Homo sapiens: one gene and its partners. The protein of the gene in region 1 purifies or fractionates together with the protein of each later gene. This does not show direct contact. Each region holds a gene or a part of one and is shown on either strand. Other genes may lie near its edges. The genes, in order: KPNA1, USP1, RNMT and CHD8.

Region 1 (7,025 bases):
TTATATCAAAAAAAGTACTTACCAGCCGGGTGCGGTGGCTCATGCCTGTAATCCCAGTATTTTGGGAGGCAGAGGCAGACGGATCATGATAGGATATCGAGATCATCCTGGCCAACATGGTGAAATCCTATCTCTACTAAAAATACAAAAAAGGCCGGGCGCAGTGGCTCACGCCTGTAATCCCAGCACTTTGGGAGGCCGAGGCAGGAGGATCACAAGGTCAGGAGATCGAGATCCTGGCTAACACAGTGAAACACCGTCTCTACTAAAAATACAAAAAATTAGCTGGGCACGGTGGCGAGCGCCTGTAGTCCCAACTACTTGGGAGGCTGAGGCAGGAGAATGGCGTGAACCCGGGAGGCGGCGCTTGCAGTGAGCCGAGATAGCGCCACTGTACTCCAGCCTGGGCGACAGAGTGAGACTCCATCTCAAAAAAAAAAAAAAAATACAAAAATTAGCTGGGGGTGGTGGCGTGTAACTGTAATCCCAGCTACTCGGGAGACTGAGGCAGGAAAATCGCTTGAACCAGGGAGTCGGAGGTTGCAGTGAGCCAAGATCGCGCCCAGCCTGCACTCCAGACTGGCAACAGAGCCGTCTTTAAAAAAAAAAAAAAAGGTAATCACCCTGCCCACCAGTAAATGCATTCCTAACTTTCAGTGGTAAATTGCTAACATTAAAATCAACAATCATAACTCTTTCAAGGAGTATTTTTAAAGTCACTCTATAAAAAAAAGTCAGTCTCTCAATTTGAATTAACATGATACTGACTACTATTCACTATAAAGTCTTTTATAAAATAACCCAAAAATGAAAATAATTCTGTTTTCTGATCCTGGTGAGATCCCACAAATAAATAGGAAACTTAAAATTTAGGCATGGTTCACAATTACATATATGTCTGTATTTTTATTCTTTTATTGATAAAAATACTCCAACACAAATTACCTGTGGTATGAAAAACAGACTATGGGAAAGTAATTTTGTAGAGAGATGAAAAAATATACTGAACATATTCATAGCTCACCTTTTGAAAGCAGCTTCCTGAATTTCTGTGTTGCTGAAAGCTGTTGCTCTGGGCTTTTGGAAAATATCATTTCAATCATGTCAGAAGTGATGACACCACCCTGCGATCACAAACAAAAAGAACATATAATAAATTATCACCCTTAATTCAAAGGAAAGAAAGATAACAGATATCATGGCCAAGTTATTAAGTTAATCATACTTCCCCAGAAGTTACATAAAGGTAGGACAATCTTTACATATAGAAACGTGTAAGATTATTAATAATATAATGAAGCCAAATTCTTTGTCTATCATTAAAAAGCTCACAGTAGAAAGTGATCTTACTAGTAAATAAGACAAGGAGCTTATTGCTCTTCCCCTCCTTGCTCATCACATAGCTGGCTATTCTTTCTTATCAAAATTAAATGTTAAGTTTTAAAAGATGGCTTTTCAAGACCTCCAAGCCTAAAGTAGCCACTTTATCTCTATCACAGCACCATATTTCAATCGTATGCCCCAGCCCTTATTACACTCCCAGATATTTTTCTGTGTTCCTCCAGTATACTGTAACTTCCTTGTAAGCCCAAGACCCTGTCTGTCTTACTCTATCACTAAGGGCTGGTGTACTGTAAATGCTCTGCAATACTTATTGAGTGAGTAAATAGAGTGGTCCTGTATAAATCCAGCCACTGCCAAATTCAACAGCTGACTCTTAAACTTATTTAAAATTTCTTTCTTGTTTTATTAAAACTTTCCAGTTTCCCACTACCTTCTTGCTTTATTAGAATGTTTCCATTTCCCACCATAACTCATCCCCAGTATTAGCAGTTAATTTTCTTCTCAGGGTCATTTGTCAGAAAGAAACAAAGTTCTTATTTCATGAAGGGTAGCAGTCAACAAGATGAATTGTGAAGAAAGCTGCACTAAGCTGTAAATGCTAGATGACTGGTAAGCAATACCTAAGAATCCTCATAGGGGAATATATGACGCATTCTACTCAAGAATCAGAAAAGTAACTATTTTCAAAATTGCAAGACTGATTCCTAAATCAAGGTTTCTATATGATTTGTTATGAATATGTTTGCATAAACACATTCATATATATATATACACACATTAAGCAAATATCTTTTTCTTCCCTCTCTCATCCTCTTATAGCAAGCTGTACTGACTTTACATTACACTATTTAAGTATTGTTAACTTTACATTATAATATTTAAGTCACAGGCTATCAAGGACAGGAGTGAACATCACCCAAAGATTTTGCATCCTCTTCCGCAGAAGGAGTTAGTAAAGATGTGCCTCAACTTACAATGAATGGGGTTATGCCCCACTAATCCCATCATAAGTTGAAAATATTAAGTAAAAAGTACACTTAATACACCTAACCTACCAAACTTCATTGCCTAGCCTAGCCTACCTTAAACATGCTCAGAACACATACATTAGCCTACAGCTGAACAAATGATCTAACACAAAGCCTATTTTATAATAAAGTGGTTGACTATCTCGTGTAATTTACTTAATACTGTACTGAAAATGAGAAACAGAGTGACTGTATGGGTATTCAAAATACAGTTCCTACTGATTGCATATTGCTTTCACACCACTGTAAAGTTGAAAAATCCTGACTTGAACCCTCCTAAGTCAAGAACCATCCATACATTTTTAGTTGCACAAAGGAAAGTTGTAATCTGGCTGGGTGCGGTGGCTCACGCCTGTAATCCCAACACTTTGGGAAGCCAAGGCGGGTGGATCACGAGGTCAGGAGTTCAAGACCAACCTGGCCAATATGGTGAAACCCTGTCTCTACTAAAACTACAAAAAAATTAGCTGGGGGTAGTGGCGCACGCCTGTAGTCCAAGTTGGCCTCATCCAATCAGTTGAAACCCTTAAAAGCAAAGACTAGGTTTTCTGAAGAAAAGGGATTCAACAACATCAACTCTTAACCTGAATTTATAGTGGGCCAGTGTGCCCTACAGATTTCACACTTGCCAGCTCCCAAAGACACGAGCCACTTTCTTAAACTAAATTTCTTTCTCTCATTGGTTCTGTTTCTCTGGAGAACCCTAATACAATCCATAAAACACTTTATATTCACTTAACACTCTCTTCTTAAAAAAATTGGAAAGACTGGCTTTCTGAAGGGCCTAGAAACTTTCATCACAAAATGATGGCATTGGCTATGTCTGTATGAATTCCAAAGGAAATAATACTACCCTCCCAACTCTCAAAGAAAGCTGGTTCATGTAAACTGGAGATCTATGAAATGAAATAAAAATAAAAACTACAAAATACTATGAATAGTATGCCACCATTTACCAAAAAAAAAGGTGGGGGAGAGGAGAACATTTTAATATACAAAAGTTCTCAGAAAGAATAAATAGGAATTTAGTAATACTAGTTGCCAATGGAGAAAAATACTAGGTGGCTAAGCGGAAGAAAGATTTTTCTTCATTTTTTTTAATTGTACTTTTTTTGTTACTACAAACAACAGTACCTTTTAGGAGATAATTTTCTTTTTAAAAAAACTGTGTGTGTGTACACATATATATATATGTACACATATATAACCTATTTTTAAAATTACGTAATTACAATACTCTAGAAATCTAGATAGGTCTAATCCATACAAATAAAGCATGACTTTTATCTCTTCATGTTAACTTCAAAAAAGTAACAAAATGGTTTACAACAGAAAAATCCAAGAGTTCTGATGTGGAATCAAGTTTTTAAATCATACAAACAGGTCAATTTTGTAAATCAATAAAAAATCATTATTTTCTTTAAAGTATCTCTTATGGCTTGGTGTGATGGCTCAAGCTTGTAATTCTAGCACTTTGGGAGGCCAAGGCAAAAGGATCACTTGAGGCCAGGAGTTCACCTGGGCAACACAGTGAGATCCTGTCTCCACAAAAAATTTAAAAATTTGCCAGTCATGGTGGCACATGCCTGTAGTCCCAGCTATTTGGGAGGCTAAAGCAGGAGGATCACTTAAGCCCAGGAGTTCGAGGTTGCAGTGACCTACGATTGCGCCACTGCACTCCAACCTGGGCAACACAGCAAGACCCTGTCTCTAAAACATAAATAAATAAATAAATAAATAAATAAATAAATAAATAAATAAATAAGGTGTCTATTCTTATTCAACTTTTAAAGAGTAATTTTATCTTATAATTAGCTTGTTAAGTTTTTAGAGCAGAATTAATCTTTATAATTTAACTGCACTTTATCCAAAATATAATAAACATTTAATGAACCATGAGATTAAGCATATTCTTTTTAAAAATGAAATGCCAAGTACTTTTTGTAGCCATCTAACCTTTTTTAAAACTCAAAAGGAAATCTACATCTCATATCTTCATCACAAAAACACTGAAAAGAGTTCATTATCTTACTGGTGCCATCTCCATGTTACTAATCTGAGCCTCATGAAAGCCTCCATCTGACATAACTTCTTCTTCTGTTTCTTCTTCTGCTGTAGCAACATTTCTCCGCTTGAATAACTGAAAGATAAAAGATTGGTAGCAATGTAAATGTAAATTCTAACACAAGGGAGTTCAACATTCAAATACTAGGCACCCCATTCAAAGTGAAGTCTTTGAAAATCATTTTTAAAATTCTAAAGCTGTCAGCTTTTACTGATGAGTAACCATTTCAGATTTCTCCATAGTCTTATAATCAAATATAATTAACTATTACAACATGCTATAAACAACACTTGATAATGTAAAACTTACTAAGAGAGGTCTGACACTATATGACATTAAAAAAAAAAAGGTTGGAAAAAGGAGCTGGGTCATGCTTGGCCATTTTCCTCATCCCTTTATGTAAAGTATACATCAGGACAGTCCTAACAATGTACCAAGGAAAATGAAAATAAAAACTATGTTCAAATGACTTAATACTTCCCTCCTAATCTCCAAAGATGGTGGACTGTGGCTTCTGACCTTCCCAACCTATCCAGCAACCAGTGGCAACAAATGATGACTGCTTAAGCACTACCTTTAAAGCAGCTCCGTTAATGTGTATAGGCAAAGGAGACTAGTTCTCTCCAAAGTCAGCCAACGAGGGTGATTACCATTATATCCTTATGAATCCTGGGCAGCACATTTATTCATCAAGCCATGATGGAGTAACAGTAACTTACCCTCTCTCACGCTGAACAACTAAAAACAGACAAAATACATAAAATAATGTTTCAGCCATTGGACAATAAAAACCACAGAGTAGTGATATCTCAGAAAGAAAAACCCAAGATAAGCCCCAATACTGCCTCAGATTACTATGCAGACAGTTCCAGGCTGCAGTGCAGGAAAGGTAAACTCAACCAGAGTTTAGATGCTCCTTGGATTTGAGAAAACACAGTTCAGAGCTGAGAAGGCCAAGAGACCTAAAATTCATAACGCAGAGTACAACACAAAAAGAACACCCAAGATCTACAGGAGGTTCTCTCTGAGATTTAACTTAATACTAATCAGCACATAATCATATTCTTTCAGAAGACAGAAGCAGAGACAGTACTTCTCAACTCATTCTAGGAGATCAGCATTACTCTTAATACCAAAACCACCTACCAAAGGCCTATTTAACAGTAGTTTCTTTTACCCAGTACATGTCCAGCTATCAAGAAAAAATTACAAGGCATACTAAAATATAAAAAACACATTTTGAAGAGACAGAGCAAGTATCAGAACCAGATTCAGCCACGGCAGTGATGTTGAGATTATCGGACCAAGAATTTAAAACTACGATTAATATGCTAAGGGCTTTAAATGGATAAAGTGGACAGCATACAAGAACAGATAGGCAATGTAAGGAGAGAGATGGAAATTCTAAAAAAGAACTAAAAAGAAATGCAAGAGATCAACAACAACAGAAATGAAGAATGCCTTTGATCGACTTTTTAGTAAACAAGACACAGCTAAGGAAATAATCTCTGAGCTTAAGGAAATCTCATTCGAAATCTTTAAAACTGAAAAGAAAACAGAAAAAGGACTGACACAAATAGAACAGAGTATCTATGAACTGAAACAACTACAAATGGTATAATAAACATGGAATGGAACTATCAGGAGGAGAGGAAAGAACAAAAGAAATATTTGACACAATAATGACTGAGAATTTCCCCCAAATTAGTATCAGACACCAAACTGTAGCAGGCCATGTCTCATTAATGCAGGGCTCCATAACAACTGTTTCAGTACTGACTGACTGGTTAAGTTAAATATTAAAAGCTAAAAAAAGCCAGTGCCCTTATACAAAGGCTGGAATCTAACAAAAGCCCACCAAGAGTTTTGCCTAGGCCTTTCCTGGGCCTTAAAGCATAACAAAGAAATTCCCCAGGCCTCCACAAACAAGTTTATTGGATGTCTGAAAGAACTCCCCAAACCTCCACGAGCAGGAGACAAGATAAGGGTAATCACCTCAGCACCTAGATTAAGTAAATTTACTGAGACTCCAGAGGAAGGTCTTCAAGACTCAGACCTTAGTTACAGATTAAAAGAAGTTTCATCACTTATGTCTTTAGATGAATACACACTTACACGCAGACATATAGCTTAAAAGGTATATAATATCTGGAAAACTTTGTAATTTCGAGTTGGTCTGGCAATAATTTCTAGGCCTTCTCCCTGTAACCAGGTACAAAAATAAAAACTCTCTTCCTCCCCAGTTCATCTGCATCTTGTTATTGGGCCATGAGAAACAGCAGCCCAACCCAGTTTGGTCTGGGAACAAAACCACTGGAAGCCCAGAGAACACCAAGCTGGACAAAGGCCAAAAAAATCCCACTACACCTAGGGATATCATTTTCAAACAACAGAAAATCAGAAATAAAGGAAAAACAATCCTAAAAGACAAGGGTAAAAACACTGTACTTAACACATGAATAAAGATAAGAATGATAACCACACATGCCAGAAGAAAGTGAAGTGAAATATTTGAAGTGTTGAGAGAGAAAACCACCAACCTAGAAACTCTGAACCTTGCAAAATCATCCTTCAAAAGTGGAAACAAA
Region 2 (7,025 bases), on another chromosome or scaffold:
ACATTTCTGTACTTTAAAAATTCTACAGTAAAGCAGCAGTGAACTTGGTTGACAACTCCAGTCTGACTTGATAGTCTGTAGCGGCACAAAAAAGTACGCTTCAGTGTACTTCTTAGTCAAATCTAGCAGTTTATAGTAGGAACAGCAAAACTGGTGGTTCCCCGTAGGAATCACATCGATAATGTTTAACTCATGTTAACACTGTGCTCAGCCATTTAGACTAACTTGGAGAAATATTTGTTGACTAAAATTGTCTTTCTGAGTTTAAATTTGATTATTTGTAGTGCAAAACATCTGTGTAGGGGTAAAAGGTTTTATATATATATATATATATATTTGTTTGGTTCAGAAGACTTGACAGTTATAAGACATTTTAAACTCTAGTCATGTAACTAGTCATACCTGTTGGAGGCATATGATTGCAAATTATAAAAATAAACTTTAAGTAATGCTTTTGATGCAAATAAATTATTTAGCTACAGAAAATAAATCAGAACAAAGTGGAATACTTTATTCCACCACCAGCAGCTCTAGCTGGAGTCTGTACTACTCCCTGTTTAACATATAGGCACTCTGCTGGGTGACTAAGGTGGATTTGGTCCCATGTGTTAATTTCCTAATAGCTATCAATAACCAGTTGAGGAGATTTGTGAGAGTGAAGCTTTTGTTTATCAGCATTCATACTTCTGAATACTTTGAGGTGCTAGAGTAATAATAGCTAGCAATCGTAAAATAAATGAAAATATTGGAAGGACCTAGTGGTTTTTTTGTTGTTGTTGTTAAAGAAGTAAAAGAATAGTAAACTTAAAGCATTTGTGTTTTGAGATGGGGTCTCCTTGTGTTGCCCAGGCTGGTCTTGAATTCCTGGGCTCGAGCAGTCCTCCCAAGTAGCTGGAATTACATGTCAATGCCCCCACACCCACATTCTGAACATTTTATTTTTAAGTGAGGGATAGCTACATATTTTTTTTTTTTTTACCAGCAGGAAGTCATATATAATTCTCTTCACAGACTTTCTTTCCTCTGAATTCTTATTAATAGAATCTTACTTAGTGCAGCCTCTCCCAAATATTGTCATGGTTAGTTTATTCCCAGGTTTCTGTTCAGTTAAACTATTTGATTAAAATGTCAAAGTAGATGAAACAAATCATAGTCTCTCAGTTCCTCAATTTTCTACTCTGTAAAATAGGATTAACATCCTTTTAAGGGAATTGTTCTGTGGCTTGTTATGTGTAATAATGTTTTTAAATGCTTTTAAAACTTTTATTCTGGGCATATAGCAATTTTTGAGCCTGTATTTCTTAAAATGTCATCTGAACAAGATTCACATACTTTTCAGATTATACAACTTTTGGGAAAAGACTAAATCTACAGAAGTAATATTTTCACCTTGTTTCTTTAAGATAACTACTTATCGTTCTCCCTTCTATATTTCATAGTGATCAAGTTGTTCCTGCAGCACAGTCTTCACCTATAAACTGTGAGAAGAGAGAAAACTTGTTACCATTTGTGGGACTGAATAATCTCGGCAATACTTGCTATCTTAATAGTATACTTCAGGTAAATTGACAATTTTGCTATATCATAAAGCTTTAGTAGGCAAAGATTGATGTAGCATTTAATGTTTTTGAGTTATTGGAGGACTTTAATGTCCATACTGTCTTTGCCTTTGATTGTTAATAAACCAGAATAGGCTAAAATAATAAGTTACATGTTATTAAACTTCCTTTGGGGTAAGAGAAAATGATAGACTAAATAAAGGTGGGATAGCAAAATTGAGTAGACCTTAAGTGGAAGGTCAAACCTTTAATTTCTTTCTCTGATTCCTGGTGCTACAGTGTGATATATGTCTTATCCCTTGGAAGTAACGTTGGCATTGTGTTGTGTGTCCGTTGGCGCTGTGTTGTGTGTCCTTGTAACCTTAAAGTCTTAGCAATATCTGCCCAGGTGCAGTGCTTTGTGCTAATGAGGGAAGACACTGGGCTACTACTGATGAAGTGGAGAACAAATTTTGACACAAAACTTAATCTCAGAATTTTAGGGTAATACATGTTAAAAGTGCTCTATAGAAAGCATGATGTTGTTTTAATGATTTTACGTGTATTGTTTGTTCAGTAAACACTTAAGACAATCTCACTTTTTATAGGTATTATATTTTTGTCCCGGTTTTAAATCTGGAGTAAAGCACTTATTTAATATTATTTCAAGGAAGAAAGAAGCTCTAAAGGATGAAGCCAATCAAAAAGACAAGGTAAGAAAAATAAAGAACAGAAAATAATGTAAAAAGCAAAAGTAAATTAATGGAAATTTACTTGCCTGGAAATGAAGAGGACTGGGGGGGTGGATGACAAAGATTATTTCTCTGTTAGCGAGCTATTGTCAGGCAATTATTTTTCATTCTTTCAAGGTGGCTAACTAGATAATTCCCTTTTACAATGTTTGCTCCTGTAATCTGTGTATCAAACTTTTGTTACTTGTATACTATATATTACTGTATACTATAATCACAATATGTTATACCCATGTACAACTTATTTACCCATTGTGTTTTCAAATTGAGTTAAAATTTAAATACAGTGTATTTAAAGAAATCTTTAACTTCCATAATTAAAAAACCATTGTAATTCACATAAATAGTAATTCATAATTCCTCTTAAAATTACAAAAAAGACCAGACGTGGTGGCTCATGCCTGTAATCCCAGCAGTTTGGGAGGTCAAGGTGGGTGGTGGATTGCTTGAGCGCAAGAGTTTGAGACCAGCCTGGGTAACATGGCAAGACCCTGTCTTTACTAAAAATACAAAAACTAGTAGGGCGTCATGGTGTGAGCCTGTAGTTCCAGCTAATTGGGAGGCTGAGGTGGAGGATTGCTTGAGCCCAGGAGGTTGAGGCTCCAGTGAGCCGCGATCAAGCCACTGCACTCCAGCCTGGGCGACAGAGACCCTGTCTCAAAATAAAAAAATAAAAAATAAGGCTTATTTGTACATCCCTTAAAATTAGTGCTATTATGCAACTTAGAAAATCTAGTATTCTTAAGTGAGACAAAGACAAAGGGGGAAGGTACTTAATTTGTTCATAAAATTATTGGTTTGTGTGTTTCTTTCTTGACAGGGAAATTGCAAAGAAGATTCTTTGGCAAGTTATGAATTGATATGCAGTTTACAGTCCTTAATCATTTCGGTTGAACAGCTCCAGGCTAGTTTTCTCTTAAATCCAGAGAAATATACTGATGAACTTGCCACTCAGCCAAGGCGACTGCTTAACACACTGAGGTATAGCCTATAATATAATTTTAGGGTTTCAATTTAGCTACTTGTTTATATCCTTGGAGGAGAATGACATGCGAAGAAACAGGAATAAAGGGCAAGGAAAGTAGAAACTCTAGGTCCACAGTCCTTTATATCCCAGAGACTCTGAATACTGGAAATTTTTTTCATAAATTTGGTGCTAAATTCGTTAGATCTGAACATATTATATGAGGCTTTTTATAGTCATTCATATTTATCTCTAACGTGAATATTCATACATGCTTCTATAGAAGTAGTAATGTGTTTAGTTATAGAGTACTCCCATATCAAGTCGGTGATAAATATTTTACTTATATGCCATATAATCATTGAATCTGAAAATGTCTGAATTTCTAAATGCGTGGTCCTAAGGATTTCACATTAAGAATTATAGGACTATATTCAAAATATGTGTAAGAACTGTAAATTCCAAATATTCTATTTTTATATGTGATTAGAGGAGAACTGTTGGCTAACTGGATTAGATTGCTTTTTGGTATTTTCTTAAAAATGAAACTTTACATATAAAATAGCCTTATTCAAATACAATTATAGGGCAAGTCTTTAAAACAATCACTTAAGCATTTAGTTTAAAAATAGAACTAGGTGCAATATATTGCTATACCTTAGTTAAGAGGTATTGTAGGCCGGTCACAGCTCACACTTGTAATCCCAGCACTTTGGGAGGTGAAGGTAGGTGGGTCATTTGAGGTCAGGAGTTCAAGACCAGTGTGGCCAACATGGTGAAACCCTGCCCCTACTAAAAATACAAAAATTAGCTGGGTGTGGTGGTTTGCACCTGTAGTCCCACCTACTCGGGAGACTGAGGCAGGAGAATCGCTTGAACCCGGGAGGCGGCGGTTGCAGTGAGCCAAGATTGCGCCATTGCAGTCCAGTCTGGGCAACAGATCAAGACCCTTGTCTCCAAAAAAAAAAAAAAAAAAAAGGCCATTGTAGCGTGGTGGCCAAGAGCGGGTTTGAATACTGGCTTTTCATCCTAAGTAGTTCTGTGACCTTGGGCAAGTTATTTAACCTGTCTGTGCCTTAGTGCTTGTATCTGTCAGTAATGGTGATAATAGTACCTCATAGGGTTATTGTGAAGATAATGTATACATAGGAGATAAAAAACATTTTGACTAAAACCTGGTGTATGGTAAGCATTATCTAAGTATTAGTTATTAATATATTTAGAAGAGGATCAAAGTATTATAATGAAAATAGGGTACAATTTACTCTTACTTTTAGTTACAGATAAGAAATTCCAAATTAGTGCTGAATAAATGTCTTGACATTTAAAAAATGAAATAATTTATGATTTTCCTTACATGAATTAATTTCTATATAGGCTTTATGTACTGTATCTTCAAAACTAGAATAGATGAAATGGAAATTTTTATTTATAGGGAACTCAACCCTATGTATGAAGGATATCTACAGCATGATGCACAGGAAGTATTACAATGTATTTTGGGAAACATTCAAGAAACATGCCAACTCCTAAAAAAAGAAGAAGTAAAAAATGTGGCAGAATTACCTACTAAGGTAGAAGAAATACCTCATCCGAAAGAGGAAATGAATGGTATTAACAGCATAGAGATGGACAGTATGAGGCATTCTGAAGACTTTAAAGAGAAACTCCCAAAAGGAAATGGGAAAAGAAAAAGTGACACTGAATTTGGTAACATGAAGAAAAAAGTTAAATTATCCAAGGAACACCAGTCATTGGAAGAGAACCAGAGACAAACTAGATCAAAAAGAAAAGCTACAAGTGATACATTAGAGAGTCCTCCTAAAATAATTCCCAAGTATATTTCTGAAAATGAGAGTCCAAGACCCTCACAAAAGAAATCAAGAGTTAAAATAAATTGGTTAAAGTCTGCAACTAAGCAACCCAGCATTCTTTCTAAATTTTGTAGTCTGGGAAAAATAACAACAAACCAAGGAGTCAAAGGACAATCTAAAGAAAATGAATGTGATCCTGAAGAGGACTTGGGGAAGTGTGAAAGTGATAACACAACTAATGGTTGTGGACTTGAATCTCCAGGAAATACTGTTACACCTGTAAATGTTAATGAAGTTAAACCCATAAACAAAGGTTAGTATAATTCTTAGACTTTGATAGGTAGAAGCATTAGCAGCTACAGAATTAGAATTTTCTCTTCCTAGATACATGTACAATATAATCTCTGGCTAAAATTGTTTCAAGAGAAGGAAATTTAACACTGAATGTGAACTATGGTGTTTTAAGTGCTATGCTTAGATTAGTGTGTGTGTATATATTGTATGCATATATATGTGTGTGTGTGTGTGTGTAATGTCATTAAAGTAATTTTAATTTATAGCTTATAAAGTAGGGAAGTTCGGCCAGGTATGTTAGCTCGCACCTGCAATCCCAGTACTTTGGGAGGCCTAGGCGGGCAGATCACCTGCGGTCAGGAGTTCAAGAGCAGCCTGGTCAACATGGTGAAACCCCGTCTCTACTAAAAATGCAAAAATTAGCCAGGCATGGTGGCGCACGCCTGTAGTCCCAGCTACTTGAGAGGCTGAGGCAGGAGAATCGCCTGAACCCGGGAGGTGGAGGTTGCAGTGAGCCAATATTATGCCACTGCACTCCAGCCTGGGGCGACAGAGCAAGACTCCGTCTCAAAAAAAAACAAATAATAATAAAGTAGGGAAGTTCAGTATATTTTAATGTACATTTAAGAGTACATTTCCCTTTATGCAGTGTTTGACATAAACTGATGAAGGACATTGCATTTAGTGAAATTTTAAAAGTAAAGACTAAGTACAGTCATGTGTTGCTTAACAACAGGGATATGTTCTGAGAAATGTGCTGTTTCATTGTGTGAATTTCACGGTGTACTTACACAACTAGATGCTAGAGCGTACTACACAACTAGCCTATATGGTATAGACCAGGGTATCTAATCTTTTGGCTTCCTTGGGCCACACTGGAAGAAGTGTCTTGGGCCACACCACACAGAATACACTAATGATAGCTGATGAGCCAAAAAAAAAAAAATCAAAAAAGTCTCATAATGTTTTAAGAAAGTTTATGAATTTGTTACGGGCTACAGGCAAGCTTTGCATGGCCTATTGCTCCTAGGCAACAAACCTGTATAGCATATAACTACTGAATACTGTAGGCAACTGTAGCACAATGGTATTTGTGTATCTAAGACGTATCTAAGCATAGATATGTAAACATAGGTACAGTAAAAATAATCATAGACTACTGTCATATGCGGTCCATTGTTAAATAATTGAAACGTTGGTAGGTGGTGCATAACTGTAAGTTACACGATACTTGAACTAGATTTTTACCTAGTTTTGTCCAGATCTACAGATATCAGGGAAAATGTGTAATATTGATATAGTGAATAGTTTTACCAAAAATGTCATCCTTATTCTGGGTTTATTCTATGGGGAGGTGTCTGTAGGAAGGGAGTTACAATACAACTGACTTTTTTTTATTTTTTATTTTTTTTATTTTTTTGGAGACAGAGTTTTGCTCTTGTTGCCCAGGCTAGAGTGCAATGGCATGATCTTGGCTCACTGCAACCTCCACCTCCCGGGTTCAAGCGATCCTCCTGCCTCAGCCTCCCGAGTAGCTGTGATTACAGGCATGCACCACCACACCCGGCTAATTTTGTATTTTTACTGGAGACAGGGTTTCTCCATGTTGGTCAGGCTGGTCTTGAACTCCGACCTCAGGTGATCTGCCCGCCTCAGCCTCCCA
Region 3 (7,230 bases), on another chromosome or scaffold:
CATTACAGGTTCTTCAGGCAAAGCAGAGTTAACCTCCTCAGAGGTGGAAGAACTGCTTCTACTGGCAAAAAAGAGTGAGTCAAATTTAGGAGTTTAACATCCCCAGCTTCATCAGGATGTTCCCATATGGCCCTATTCCAAATGTGCAGATCCCATTCCTTCCCAATCAATGCCCTCATTTTAATAGCAGACCAAGGTGAGAAGGGAATTCAGTTAGCACTGTAATTCAGCCACCTACAGGATAAGACTCTGGATTTGGTTTTCACCAACCTCAGCTCTGTAGCTACAAGAGATACGGGTTTCTTTAGGGCAGACACAGAAACTTTTCAGGTCACTTATGTGGAGCTTCAATCGGGAATTTGAAGCCTTAAGCTCCCCTTTTCTTTCCTTTCTTTTTTTTTTTTTTGAGACAGTCTCACTCTGTCACTCAGGTTGGAGTGCAGTGGTGCAATCTCGGCTCACTGCAACCTCCGCCTCCTGGGTTCAAGCGATTCTCCTGCCTCAGCCTCCTGAGTAGCTGGGATCATCCTTTTCTTTTCTCACTTTACCCAGTACAGTTAAAAGCAACCAGCCTATCTTATTGTACTCATTAATTCGATTAAAATGTTCTAAGGTATCAAATACCTGATCATTCTGAATCTTGTCTATAAGCATGAGTGGGAGTATCTAATAGTGATCTTTTGCATATCTTTGTTGCCATATCACACCAGGGACTATCAGTGCCCTCTTTTCTACAGGGAATACTCATTACTGCCTTTGAATCTGATCAGTTTGGAAAACCAATTCCAGAAACACTATAATCAATTCAGAAAACTCATCCTTAAGATTCTGCTCACTAGAAGCACTCTCAGCACCCAAATTTGAATCAGTCAGGGCTCTACAGAGATACAGAACTGATAGGAAAAAATATATAGATGTAGATAAAAACATAAATATCTTCATCTACATATAGACAGATACAGAGATATTGGTATTTTAAGGAACTGGCTCACACAACTGTAGGGGATAGCAACTTCAAAATGTGTAGGGTAGATCTACAGACAGGAAACTTAGGCAGGAATTGATGCTGCAGTCTTGAGGAAAATACTGTCTTCTTCAGGACACTTCAGTTTTGGCTTTTTTAGCCTTCAATTGATTGAATGAGGTCCACCCACATTATTTAGGGTAATATCCTTTAGTTTAGGTCAACTGATTATAGATGTTAACCACGTCTTCAGAATACCATCATAGCATCAACCAAACTAGTATCTGATTAAATAACTAGGTATTATAGCCTAGCTAAGCTGACATAATAAAACTAATCATCACACACAGTATTACTCAACAAAATCTTATTTTCAACTGAAGGAAAAACCTTTTAAACAATAATATTTTATTTGTTCCAGAAAGACAATGAAATTTCAGTAGGAACACTTTCCTGAGTGGAACAGAGGAAAAGTCCTTCATCCAAAACTATTTGGAGGAACAAAGCTTCCATGAACCACCTCTCTTCACAGAACACTATCTTAGGAAACTATAACATTGTTTCTACATTTTTAAAACAATCTCTATGTTTCAAAAATATGATCTTCAACTCTACAACAGAAATCACACTTTAAAATTATACCTCTGAGAGAAGTACTCTCACTTTCTTACAAATGGGTTGAAATAAATCCTGCAGGTCCTTTCCTTGTCTTGGTGGAGCTCACATTCCAGCAAGATAACATCCTTATCTAACTATTTTCTCTCGGGACATCATAACCCAGGCATTAAGAAGTATCAAAACACTTTCTGAAAAATCTACTATTTGCTAGGCAACGTCCAGTTCTGAGTATGATCTTCTAGCCAGCACTGTTTCATTATTAGCAGAGTCTGGTCAATCAGCCAGACTGCCTGGGTCCAAATCTTGATCCCACTACTTAACAAGCTGCATGATCTTGGCCAAGTTACTTAACCCTCATCTGTAAAACAAACACTCATAACTATACCACTGGGTTCGGTTAGAATTAAACGAGTGCAAATGAATAAAGCACTAACCTTGGCACCTAAAAGGTACTCGAGTATTAGCTATTATTATTTTAATGTCCAGAAAACCAGAGATTACTCAGGCAATAATGAGGGAAAAATAACACCAATGGTAACTTTAAAATCATTTTTATCTGGCTCATTTACTTACATTAACTGCTTTCAAGAATCCTTCCCCTCTATTCTCAAATGAATTTACACAACTTCTAGTTAAGTTTTATAAAAACTGAAAAATGTAATCTCTATATATCCCATCATCGTGGAGTTTTCATAAACACATAGTTAAGAGGCTTTTAATCTAATAACTTTTTTTGTTTTGTTTAGTTTTTTTTGAGACAGTCTCGCTCTGTCGCCCAGGCTAGAGTGCAACGGCGCAATCTCGGCTCACTGCAACCTCCGCCTTCCGGGTTTAAGCGATTCTCCTGCCTCAGCCTCCTGAGTAGCTGGGATTACAGGCACGCGCCACCACGCCTGGCTAATTTTTGTATTTTTAGTAGAGACGGGGTTTCACCATGTTGGCCAGGCTGGTCTCAAACTCCTGACCTCGTGATCCAACCGCCTCGGCCTCCCAACGGCTGGGATTACAGAAGTGAGCCACTGCACCCGGTGTTTAAAAACATTAAAACATGTTTTTAAAAGTCAAAATTACACTCATTTTCTGTAAAATTACAACAGCAATTATCTCAAGAAACTTAAGCATCAGGAACAGGGAATGTAATTGCCTGGTTCTAATGCTTGTATATGCCTATAATGCATTCGATCTGTAAGACCTACACTTTTGCAGTTGTCAATATTCATGTAATGAGATTAATTCTCAACTTACCTCATTTCATATAATAACAAATACAAGCAGTCATCAGAAATTGATGGGTCATCCTTATTTGTGAAAAATAGGCCTCATTCTTGGTTCAAAGTTTGTAACCTCAAATGGGCTAATGCCCACAATTTAGAAGTGATTAGATTGGAAAGCACAACGCTGCAAATGCTGCCTTCCCCAAAGCCAGGTCTATTCATTAATATACCTGTGCCTACTGACAAGAAGGAAGGCTGGTAAAGCACATTTTCAAAGCTGTTTTAAATGGATCAATTTTGGTAAAGAGTAATTCAAGACGGATTGTAAATCTGATCAGTTTTACAACCTTGGAAGGTGGGGACTTGACGCACGACGTTAATATGCACACGCTTCAATAATCTATCCACAGGTAGTTTTGACCCTGATCTCAGGTTGAAAGTCCTCAACTATGGAGCTTTCGAGTTTCAGTACAGTAGGCGCTTTCACTCCCCAGTAGAAATCTGGGGTGATGGCCAAAAAAAGTGTGTTGTCTCCCCCAAACCACACCATGCCAAGTTCAGCCAACGCAGACTAATGCATCCTTAGGTATTTGTCAAGAAGAGGTATAGGCGGTCCCTTTTCTCAGAATCTAACAGGTAAGAATGGCCTCTTGTGGCTTCCCAAACACGGCGGTAAGGACCAGTCTGCCAGTCCCTAATAAGAAATTGCTAATTTTAAAAACCATTCCGAACGCGGGCGCTTCCGGGCCCCTCTTCAACTGGCTTCGGAAGAAGGGGGGAGAACACGGTGAAGGGTTACAGCAAAGGAGGCTGAAAAACAGTCCCAAAGCAAGATTTGCCAGGACACTGGCTCGACCCGGAAGGGCGGGGGGACCTCTCTCGGCCGCCGGGGTCTGTGGGGTCGGCGAGTGTGGACGACCCGTCTGGCAGTCGTACACTGCCACAGCCCGAAGAGCGGCGCACGCGGAGCAGTTGCCGGGTTCGCGCCGCGAGTCAGCTCCCGGACACACGCCCAGGGTTGAAGGTGCCCTCTAGACCCCTCCCGCTGCCCCACAGAGGCCTGGGCCCATGCTACCTCTTAGGACGCTGGAGCCGCCGCCGCCGCTTCCCGCCGCGCAGGCTGGACCACAGCTCCTCGGATGCCACGGCGGTGTCACTCAGCAGAGCAGCCCGACAAAGCGTGGGTCCGCGTGCAGGAACCCGCCGGGCTCAGCCGGACGCTAGCCCCCTGCCGCCCCCGGCCCCGCCAGCCGCGCCCACTAGCAACGTGCTCGCGACCTCCAGTGCCCGCTCAGTGAAGCTTCTGCATGCCGCGCGCGGCACGTCGGGACTCGTAGTTCCGGCGCGGAGGACGTGCGTCGCGGCACTCTCGCCTGACCGTCTCCACGTGACTCTCGCACCTCCGGAAGTGACGTAAGCAGACACGCGTGGCGCGGGCCGCCGTTTCCGCAAACAGAATCGCGTTTGGCTGTGCTGGTGAGTGTGACGGCTGGAACTCCGGCCCTTCCTTTCTTTGTGTTTGTCCCTCGGCCGCCGTGGAGGGGTGGAACTGGCACTCCCACCCCTGACATGGGCTCACTTCGCATTAGCCCTGTGCTTCACTACCCAACGCGTGGGTCTATTGCCTTGTGTCCTCAGTCCCAAGGAAAATGGGAACTCCTTGGGGTGGGCGGGCGCTGTTCCTCCTCCAGACTGGGCGAGCCCGGGTGGGAGAAGCAGCTCGAAGAGCTGCTCCAGCTCGCGCCCCAGGGCCGTGCTGGGGAGGGGCGTGGGGTCCGCAGGTTTGTCTTCAGCGGCGCTTCGGAAACCTGAACCAGAGGTTGAGTAACAGGCCGCGCTAATGACGGAGGGGGTGAACTTGGCTGGAGAAGTCCCTTCTCGCCTCTGTGCGTCCTCTCGGGCCCCGTGGTAGAGGGTCAAGCGGGCGGGTCGGGACTTAGAGCTTATCCCGCTTGGGCTTTATCCCGGCGGCCCTGGCGGCCTGCTCGCTCGTACCCTGAGGAGCTGAAATGACGCAGAGACATAGCTTGCTTCGGAGGTGTGACTGGAAAGCCGGGTCGAAATGTTCGTGTGGTTATTTATCGCGTGTCCATCTCCATGTCAGTCGACCACCTTTCGAAGGTTTCTTGAAGATTCTGAGGGACAGCTCTCTTCCCTATGGAGTGTTTTCATTATTCCACTTTGAGTTTGGTTTGGGTTTTTTTTCCCCCAATTTGTTAAATTGATACATAGAAGTTGCACATATTTGCAGGTGCAGGTGATACTTTGATACATGCATACAATGTGTAACGACTAAATCAGGGCAATTGGGATATTTGTCATCTCAAACATTTATCTTTATGTTGGGAACATTCCAATTTTTCTTTTAGCTATTTTGAACTACACAATAAGTTATTGTTAACTGTGTCCACCCCACTGTACTATCAGGCACTAGATTTTATTTCTTCTGGGGTTTTTTGTACCCATTAACCAATTTCTCTTCTTCATCCCGCTCCTCTTCCTGCTACCCTTCCCAGTCTGTGGTAACCACCAATCCACTCTTTACCTCCATCAGGTCCACATTTTTAGCTCCCACATGAGTAACAACATGATATTGTCTTCATGTGCCTGGCTTATTTCAGTTAACATAATGACATCCGGTTTCATCCATGTTGTTGCAAATGACAGGATTTCATTCTTTTTAATGACTAATATTCCATTGTGTATATATGCTACATTATCTTTATTCATCTGTTGATGAACGCTTAGGTTGATTCCATATCTTGACTATTGTGAATAAACTTGAGACTGCAGATATTTCTTAGATATACTGATTTCCCTTCTTTTGGATCTGTACCCAGATTTGCAAAACTGTTCATCGGACAGGGGATTAACAACCAGAATATAGAAGAAACTCATCTCAATAGCACTAGTTCTATTTTTTGTTTTTTGAAGAACCTCCATCATACTTTTCCCAGTATGTAAATTAGTGGCTGTGCTAATTTACGTTCTCCCTAACAGTGTACAAGTGTTCCCCCTTTTCTGCATCCTGCATCCTCATCAGCATCTTTTTTTTTTTTTTTTTTTTTTTTTTTTTTTGTGTGTGTGTGTGTGTGTGTGTGTGACGGAGCCTTGCTCTGTCGCCCAGGCCGGAGTGCAGTGGCTTGATCTCAGCTCACTGCAACCTCCACCTCCCGGGTTCAAGCGATTCTCATGCCTCAGCCTCCCGAGTAGCTGGGATTACAGGCGCACATCACCATGCCCGGCTGATTTTTGTGTTTTTGGTAGAGACGGGGTTTCACTATGTTGGCCAGGCTGGTCTAGAACTCCTGACCTCAAGTGATCTGCCCACCTCCACCTCCCAAAGTGCTGGGATTACAGGTGTGAGCCACCGTGACGGCCTCAGCATCCATTTTTTAAAAATCTTTTTGATAAAAGCCGTTTTAACCGAGATGAGATGGTATCTCATTGTGGTTTTGACTTGCATTTCCCTGATATTACTGATATTGAGCATTTTTTACGTATATACCTGTTGGCCATTTGTGTGTCTTTTAAGAAATGTCTATTCAGATCTTTTGCCCATTTGTAGTAGGATTGCTTCTTTTTTTTTGCTATTGAGTTGAGTTTCTTCTGTATTCCGGTTGTGAATCCCGTCAGATGAATGGTTTTGCAGATATTTTCTCCCATTCTCTAGGTTATCTCTTCACTCTTGTTTCCTTTGCTGTGCAGAAGTTTTTTAGCTTGATGTAATCCCATTTGTCTGTTTTTGCTTTTGTTGCCTGTGCTTTTGAGGTCTTACCACAAAAATCTTTGCCCAGACCAGTGTCTTGAAGCATTTCCACAATGTTTTCTTCAAGTAGTTTCATACTTTTGGGTATTAAATTTTTCAGTCCATTTTGATTTGATTTTTGCATATGGTGAGAGAGAGTGGTCTAGATTTCCCAGCACCGTTTTTTGAAGAGACTGTCTTTTCACTATGTACGTTCTTGGCACCTTTGTTGAGAACAAGTTGGCTGTAAACATGATGCTTGGTTTTAAACGTTCTTACTTATTTTTGTGGTCATCTGGAATGCTGTGTCATTTCTTCTGACCTAATTATGTTTTTATTATGTCACATCTGTGATATCATGAAAGTGACATAAGTAAAATTCATGCTTAAATCTCAATATTAATTTTAGGTAATAAATATAGCTAAAGATAAGTCACATTTCTTTATTTGAATTTAAAGCCAATTTCCATTAGGAAATCAATGGCAGAGGAGGAGAAATAGGAATTTGATAAGTTGGTATCCAGTTTTTCTAGATAATCATTTTAAGTATTTGTTCTGAAAATCACTTTTCTGATTTGTTGTTGTTGTTCTCTGATTCAGTTCTATTTGGTACTTCTTGGTATTTTGTTACCTCAAATGGTGGGTCATGAAAACTAATAACCATTGAAACCCTTACCCATTCATAG
Region 4 (7,638 bases), on another chromosome or scaffold:
AATCCCAGGTACTCGGGAGGCCAAGGCAGGAGAATCGCTTGAACCCAGGAGGTGAAGGTTACGCTAAGCCAAGATCACGCCATTGCACTGCAGCCTGGGCAACAAGAGCAAAACTCTGTCTCAAATAAATAAATAATTTTTTTTTTCTTTTTTTTTTTTTTTTTTTGGGGGGATGGAGTCTCACTCTGTCTCCAGGCTGGAGTGCAGTGGCATGATCTTGGCTCACTGCAACCTCCACTTTCCAGGTTCAAGCAGTTCTCCTGCCTCAACCTCCCGAGTAGCTGGGACTACAGGCATGTGCCACCACACCTGGCTCATTTTTGTATTTTTAGTAGAGACAGGGTTTCACCATGTTGGCCAGGATGGTCTTGATCTCTTGACCTCGTGATCCGCCCACCTTGGCCTCCCAAAGTGCTGGATTACAGGTGTGAGCCACCGTGCCTGGCCTAAATAAATAATTTCGTAAGCATATACAATCCACTTCCCACTAAGAATTAGGGTCAAAGACATTCTATTTGAACACTTGCAATTACCTAGATCTAGTTGGCCTTTGGTTGATAGATCCTCTGCCTCGGAATTTCATTGAGTTTTTTTCTTCCTTGCCTTTGGGTGTCTGCTTGCCACTTCCTAAGAATTCTTGTAGAAGGCAGTTTCCTCTACTTGCCCAAGAGCACTGAGTACTTCTCTACTATCCTATTATTAGCTTCTATCTCTTAGTGTAACTTCAAAACTTTTAAGAGCAGTGAAGTTGGTCAGGGACATGTGGCCACTTATTATTACCTAAAGAAAACATTTGTTCCCTGTTCATTTTATTTTAGGGGCCAGATCTAACATTGTAGTGTCTTTCACCAGATAGACTTCTACTGTTTCATCAAACTCCCTTCTTAACTAGACCTAGACTTTCTACTCCAATCAGGCTAATCTACTTACTGAATGTGACATATTTATTCCTAGTTCCATACCTTTGCACATGCCCTACTCTCCACTAATTATACTTAAAAGTCCAAAAATTTTTTCTTTAGTAACAGACTTAGGTACTGCTAAGCAGTTATTAACACAATATTCCTTAGTTTTCATATGTTGGTTATTCATATGTCTATTTATATGTATATTTATTTTTATGTATGTTACTATGTAAATATGGTTTGCAGTTGTTTTTGTGTGGAATCTTGTCTTTCCGTATAAGTTGTAAGCTCCTTGAGAGCAGGATCCATGTCATTCCTTTATTTTTATAAATTATTCCCCCTATCATTCCTTTACAGTGCCTAGTGCTACTCATTATGTGTTCATTGAATTTGACTGACATAGTTAAAAACTTAAGGTTTATTTTAGACTTTCAAGGAAACAAAAGACTTTAGAGTCCTCTCTCTGTAATTCTGCCCCACTCATTTGTTTACCCTGGGTTTTATACAGTTCTCTTCCTTCTCCCCTCCCACCTTTCCCTGGCTTTTTGCCTCCATTCCATGAGGCATACAGTAAGGCTGCCTGCTAGTAAGCAGTCACATAAGTGGGTACCTATCCAGCCATTCTCTTTTCAGAGCATATAATACTATCTTAGCCAAACTTGCCTTTGCTTCACTCATCATGCAGCCTTCTGGGTTGGTTGCTATATATATCTTTTTTCCTTGATGTCCCGTTCTCTTCCACAGCCCTGAGGTCTTACGAATTTTTCTACTTTCTTTTTGCTGTTGATGAATTGTTTCATTATTAAATATATGCATGTATCAAAGCTATTCATACTCCATGTGTCATTTCTAATTGTATCCCAAACATTAGTAGATACTCTCCTCTCAGGGAATTAAATCAAAGATAATGAAGAAGCCTCTTTGGGATTCATGCTATACTCGATTCTGACCCCAGTAGTAGTAGTAATAGTTGACAGTGCACCACAGGAAGTTGGAAGACATTTGGGGTATTGCTTTGGTTATGCTTTTGTTTTGTTTTTAAAATCCTATCTGATTCCAAAAAGGATTTGAAGCTGTTGAACTTGGAGTTAGCCTGCCCCCTTACCTCTGGGCGAAAACTAAAGTAATAAAAACTAGTTTCTGTACAGAAGGTTTTTTTTTTGTTTTTTTTTTTTTTACTACCCAAAAAAACAATCTTTAGCAATTGAGAAGCATTAGAGGATTGGTCAAAGACAGCATTCTGCCTAGAGCTACTGCTTTCAGAGTCAATAAAGGATACCATTTTGATATTTTGGAGCACAGTTTTTTAATATTAATGCCCATATCTTGTTCTATTAACCAAGCCGACTTATGACCTTCTGTACTTGGGTATTGCACCAATTGTAAGGGAAGCATGAGAAAAAAAAGTATCTGGGCAAAATCATCTGTATTCTGAGTGAAGTGGTCATGAAGAATTATAAAAAGTGGATATGCCACCCCATATGAAGAATGGTAGTTATGAAATAATGTCCACTTTTTTTTTTTTTCCATCTATAGTCTTACCAATGTCCATTGGTTTTTGAAGGCCAAGACCATTGGAAATCATACTAAGATCAGTGTAGGTACCAGAAATTGGTTCAGGCACACCTGTTCCCATTTCCATAATATCTATAGCTCCTTTGATGACAGGTCTATTCTGTACCAGATGGATAATAGGCTCTCATCCTAGAAACTATTAATAATTAAGGTTATATCTGTATATGCATTTACAGACAAACACATTGTTCTGATAAATCTTAATACTAACATCAAATTGATATAATGGCAGCAGTAGCCAGGAGAGAATTTGGTTGACAGATTTTTTTTTTTTTTTTTTTTGAGACAGAGTTTCCCGCTTGTTGCCCAGGCTGGAGTGCAATGGCATGATCTAGGCTCACCACAACCTCCGCCTCCCGAGTTCAAGTGATTTTCCTGCCTCAGCCTCCTGAGTAGCTGGGGTTACAGGCATGCACCACCACACCCAGCTACTTTTGTATTTTTAGTAGAGACGGGGTTTCTCCATGTTGGTCAGGCTGGTCTTGAACTCCGGACCTTAGGTGATCCACCCGCCTCGGCCTCCCAAAGTGCTGGGATTACAGGCGTGAGCTACCGCGCCTGTCTTGGCTGACAGATTTTGATACACAGGGAAATGTATTTGGCCAAGTCTTTTTTTTTTTTTTTTTTTTTTTTTTTTTTTTTTTGAGATGGAATTTCGCTCTTGTTGCCCAGGCTGGAGTGCAGTGGTGAGATCTTGGCTCACCACAACCTCCGCCTCCTGGGTTCAAGCGATTCTCCTGCCTCAGCCTCCCGAGTAGCTGGGATTATGGGTGTCTGCCACCACGCCCGGCTAATTTTTTTTTGTATCTTTACTAGAGACGGGGTTTCACTATGTTGGCCAGGCTGCTCTCGAACTCCTGACCTCAGGCGATCCACCCGCCTCAGCCTCCCAAAGTGCTGGGATTACAGGCGTGAGCCACTGCGCCCAGCTTAAGGCCGAGTCTTATCACTCATATGACTTCTTGATGTCTCTGAGCTCCTATCATGTAAGACCATGCAATTATGTTACTCCTTGAGAAATTCCTTTAATAATCTGGAAGGATTCCCTCACTCACAACTTTAAAAAAGATTTCTTGGCCAGGAATGGTGGCTCATGTCTGTAATCCCAGCACTTTGGGAGGCCGAGGTGGGCGGATCACTTGAGGTCTGGAGTTCGAAACCAGCCTGACCAACATGGCGAAACCCCGTCTCTACTAAAAATACAAAAATTAGCTGGGCGTGGTGGCGGGAGCCTGTAGTCTCAGCTACTCAGGAAGCTGAGACAGGAGAATTGCTTGAACCCGGGAGGCAGAGGTTGCAGTGAGCCGAGATCGCCCCACTGCACTCCAGCCTGGGTGACCGAGCGAGACTCCATCTCAAAAAAAAAAAAAAAAATTAGGCCTTTAAAAAAAAAAAGGAATTCCTCCTTAAGTCCTGTTCTTGATTTCCAACTGATTCACAGTGCCCCTACTGGAAAATTTGCAGTGAATCCTAAAGCTTAGTAGCACCTATAATAGATACATGTCCTGATATTTTGAGTGAGGTGTCCATAAAGGATTACCCTAGGAAAGTGCAACTTTCACTCTCATTAGAAGAATTAATTTTTGCTTATTTGATTTGTTAAAATTGCTTTACTCCTACAGTTAAGTGAGAGGGTGGTGGTGGTTGTTGCCCGTAACCACATACGGCATTACTCCAGGGTTTCACGTCGTGACTGAGGGGCCTCCTAAGTGTATACAGCAGAGTATGTTCGGGCTGGACCTAGATAGTCGGACAGAACACCGACAGGGTCTTCACATTCTTTAAGCACTCTCACCCAGTCCCGGAGTCCGAGCCAAGATGGCTTCCCAGAAGTAGGTAACTAAGTGTTGTTTTAGTTCACAGCGCCCCCAATGGCGGGGGTCAAAAAAAGATGCCGAGGGGCCTGGCCGCCTGTGAACTGAGTCGTCAGAGGCGAGCCGCCGCCAGATTTTATTTTCAATCAGGCATATTTGTGGTCGCCTACGTACCCTTCTCATCCTCCTAGGACCTTCCACCCTCAAGAGACTTCCTGGATGGCGCTCACACTAGCTCGCTGGAAGAGGCCGGGCTTCGGTGCTGCCATTGGCGGATGGGAGCGCAGGGGGGCGGAGCCTAGGGAGAATGGACTACTAGCAAGCTAGATTGAGGCGAGGGCTGGCCATGCTCCGCCGGAAGGCGCCTTGTTCTCGGAGAGGGTGAGTTGAAACGCTGCCTGGAAAGGAAGTACCAGGACTTGCACAGGTAGGCTTCCCGCTCGCACCCGCTCCTCAGTGCTGGGCCAGGAGTCAGCAAAAGCTGAGGCTCTCAGAGATTTGATTTAAGTAACTCCTTCTCCTCTCTCTTCCACCCCCTGCTCGCCCCCCAGTTGTGAGGGATCAGGTGCGGGGTGATGCTCCGGACTGAACCAGTCTCCTTTGTGAGAGGCCGGGGGAGAGGGTGGCTGCCGGGCCGCGGGGTCCGAGCCGGGCCGAGCCGCGAGGGACTGCTTGGGACGCTGTGGAGTTTTCAGGGCTTGTCATTGCATTACTGGGCGTAGTGTAGATTGGAGGCGGCGCCTTGTTCTCCTCTCTTCAGAGAAGGGAAAACTCCTCGGCCCCGTTTGGTTACTCCATACTTTGGATTCAGAAATAGGTGGTTAGGGTTTTCTACTTCTTTTTATTTTTTTTTCTTCTGTATTTTAATAATAAAGGTGGGTAGGAAAGCATGGGGTAAGCGTAAGCAGATTGTTACTCATTCTCAGGTGTAAGTTCTGTGGGTCTCCTGGCAGTGAAGAGCAGGCTGTTGGAGAATGTTTAGAGATGGTGGGAAGAGAGGAGCTCAAGCCTTGCATCCTCCTTGACAGGTCTGCAGAGCTCACTGGTTTTCCGTTGCATTATGTAAACTCGTCACTGATAGAAGACCCTTCCCCCTGCTTTGGAACGAATGCAGTTTATTTACCTGTCTCTAGTGTCGCAGGGAATTTCCCTGCAGCAGCTGTATAAATGCAGCAGCCTCTTGCTTTTTAAGGGACAGTCTTGAAGCGGTTAGGGTCTTCACAGAAAAGGTATATAGTGGACCCATCTCTTTCGTATGGCTAAGCAAAGTGAGCCAGAAGTCAAAGATTTAGAACTCTGTCTTTTTCTATTAAAGAATAAACAGCGGAGCGCCCCAAACACAAGCCAGGGGAGCTGCCTTATCAGTGTCTGCTGCATCCTACCATCACAGCGGCGTCTACAGATCGTTTCATCTCCATGCTTTTCTGAGTTTGTCGACTCAGTCAAGGATTCTCAGCCTAGGTTAGCATATGCTGAAGTCATCTGGTGTGGGGCACATTACATATCGAAAGTGAGTTTGTGATTTGAATCGTGTCCTGTGTTAGTTAATTAGATCGTGTCTTCTGCTTAGGAATTTCTTTTGTATTGGTCATCCAATAGGTTTCAGAACAAATTCTAGTCAACCTCATAGAGCAAGATATGAGAAACTTATTTCAAGTACTTTGGAATTATCCCAACCCTTAAAAAAAGAGTTATGATAAGAAAAACATTTTCCATGTAAGAAGACCTTCTGCTGCAAGAGAGGCGTGTCAGTGGATCTGAAGGCAAGTGAAAGATATTGGCCAAAGAGAGAGTAGGCAAGTTTGAAGAGACAGGCTTAGGAGAAAGTTTAAAACTGAAATAGTGGCTCACGCTTGTAATCTCAGCACTTTGGGAGGTGGAGGCGGACGGATCACTTGAAGTCAGGAGTTCGAGACCAGCCTGACCAACATGGTGAAACCCCGTCTCTAAAAGTACAAAAAATACAAAAAAAAATTAGCCGGGCATGGTGACGCGTGCCTGTAGTCCCAGCTACATGGGAGGCCAAGGCATGAAAATCGCTTGAACCCTGGAGGTGGAGATTGCAGTGAGCCAAGATCGTGCCCCTGCATTCCGGCCTGGGCGACACAGCCAGAGGATAGCAAAGGAGTAATGGATTGGGATAAGGGATATAATGGAACAGTGTATGAGTACTTGAACAGTTTTTGTATTCTCCATGTTTGATCTGTCCTGTGCATCTGCTCTTTTGGTTTTGTCAGTTTTCTTTTCTTTTCTTTTCTTTTCTTTTCTTTTCTTTTCTTTTCTTTTCTTTTCTTTTTTTTTGAGACGGAGTCTTGCTCTGTCACCCAGGCTGGAGTGCAGTGGCAGGATCTCGGCTCACTGCAACCTCCGCCTCCCAGGTTCAAGTAATTCTCCTGCCTGAGCCTTCCGAGTAGCTGGGATTACAGGCGCCCGCCACCATGCTTGGCTAATTTTTTTTTTTATTTTTAGTAGAGACGGGGTTTCACCATATTGGCTAGGCTGGTCTTGAACTTCTGACCTCGTGATCCTCCCGCCTCGGCCTCCCGAAGTGCTGGGATTACAGGCATGAGCCACTTTTCTAAGCAAAATTACCACTTAAGATTAAGTTGTGGGTGTCAAAACTGTGTTTGCTTACTGAAGAAATAAGATTTGATATTCTCATATGTGAAAGGACTGTAACATTCAGATGAATGCTAAATGCTTTAGTGAACTGTTTGTCTACAGCTCTGGAAGAGTTAAGCTATCTTCTGAGCTTACATTGAGCCTAATACTTGGGAGGAAAACAGAAGACAAACATTTCTCTCGAGTCTCCACTTTCACCTCTAGAATCTCTCTACTTCTGGAGTTGGATTTGAGCCAGTCCTTGATCTGCAGGTCTTCGCATGACCTGTCCTTACATTACTGTGACCATTGTGGTATAATATTTACTATTTTACCTTTAGCATTTGATTCATTGACAGACTATCATGTTTCTTATCTCACTTTAACTTTTTATATCCCCTCTTACATGATCTATGATCTTTTATTCTTTTGTCTCACCAAGTTGGTGATCTTTTCATCTTCCTGTGATTTTGCTCACTTTCCTTTTCACTTAATTCACTGACGTTGTACACTTTTGCTTCTGTTTAGCTGAAACCTTTTAGGGAATGTAATTTCTGTATTTTTAGTAGAGACGGGGTTTCACCATATTGGCCAGGCTGGTCTTTAACTCCTGACCTCGTGAAAATTGAAACCTTTTAGGGTATCTAATTTTCAAGATGTGGTCTTTCTTTGGTACCTAGCACCCAAATGAGAGTTGTCTTTCTTTCTTTCTTAAGAGACGGGGTCTTGCCATCTTGCCCCAG

The links.
Region 2: the proteins of KPNA1 (region 1) and USP1 purify together in Homo sapiens (co-immunoprecipitation; 6 studies listed by BioGRID and IntAct, with this or other methods). This does not show direct contact.
Region 3: the proteins of KPNA1 (region 1) and RNMT purify together in Homo sapiens (co-immunoprecipitation; 5 studies listed by BioGRID and IntAct, with this or other methods). This does not show direct contact.
Region 4: the proteins of KPNA1 (region 1) and CHD8 purify together in Homo sapiens (affinity purification with mass spectrometry; 6 studies listed by BioGRID and IntAct, with this or other methods). This does not show direct contact.

Annotation. Positions count from the first base shown.
Region 1 is NC_000003.12:122,462,918-122,469,942, forward strand, and holds part of KPNA1 (importin subunit alpha-5), read right to left. Parts: intron 4,513-7,025; coding exon 4,405-4,512; intron 1,125-4,404; coding exon 1,025-1,124; intron 1-1,024. UniProt on the Homo sapiens protein: Functions in nuclear protein import as an adapter protein for nuclear receptor KPNB1. Binds specifically and directly to substrates containing either a simple or bipartite NLS motif.
Region 2 is NC_000001.11:62,440,049-62,447,073, forward strand, and holds part of USP1 (ubiquitin carboxyl-terminal hydrolase 1), read left to right. Parts: intron 1-1,439; coding exon 1,440-1,560; intron 1,561-2,146; coding exon 2,147-2,251; intron 2,252-3,110; coding exon 3,111-3,271; intron 3,272-4,689; coding exon 4,690-5,381; intron 5,382-7,025. UniProt on the Homo sapiens protein: Negative regulator of DNA damage repair which specifically deubiquitinates monoubiquitinated FANCD2. Also involved in PCNA-mediated translesion synthesis (TLS) by deubiquitinating monoubiquitinated PCNA.
Region 3 is NC_000018.10:13,722,458-13,729,687, forward strand, and holds the start of RNMT (mRNA cap guanine-N(7) methyltransferase), read left to right. Parts: upstream 1-4,215; 5' UTR 4,216-4,272; exon of another isoform or gene 4,273-4,408; intron 4,409-7,230. UniProt on the Homo sapiens protein: Catalytic subunit of the mRNA-capping methyltransferase RNMT:RAMAC complex that methylates the N7 position of the added guanosine to the 5'-cap structure of mRNAs. Binds RNA containing 5'-terminal GpppC.
Region 4 is NC_000014.9:21,453,115-21,460,752, reverse strand, and holds the start of CHD8 (chromodomain-helicase-DNA-binding protein 8), read left to right. Parts: upstream 1-4,629; 5' UTR 4,630-4,721; intron 4,722-7,638. UniProt on the Homo sapiens protein: ATP-dependent chromatin-remodeling factor, it slides nucleosomes along DNA; nucleosome sliding requires ATP. Acts as a transcription repressor by remodeling chromatin structure and recruiting histone H1 to target genes.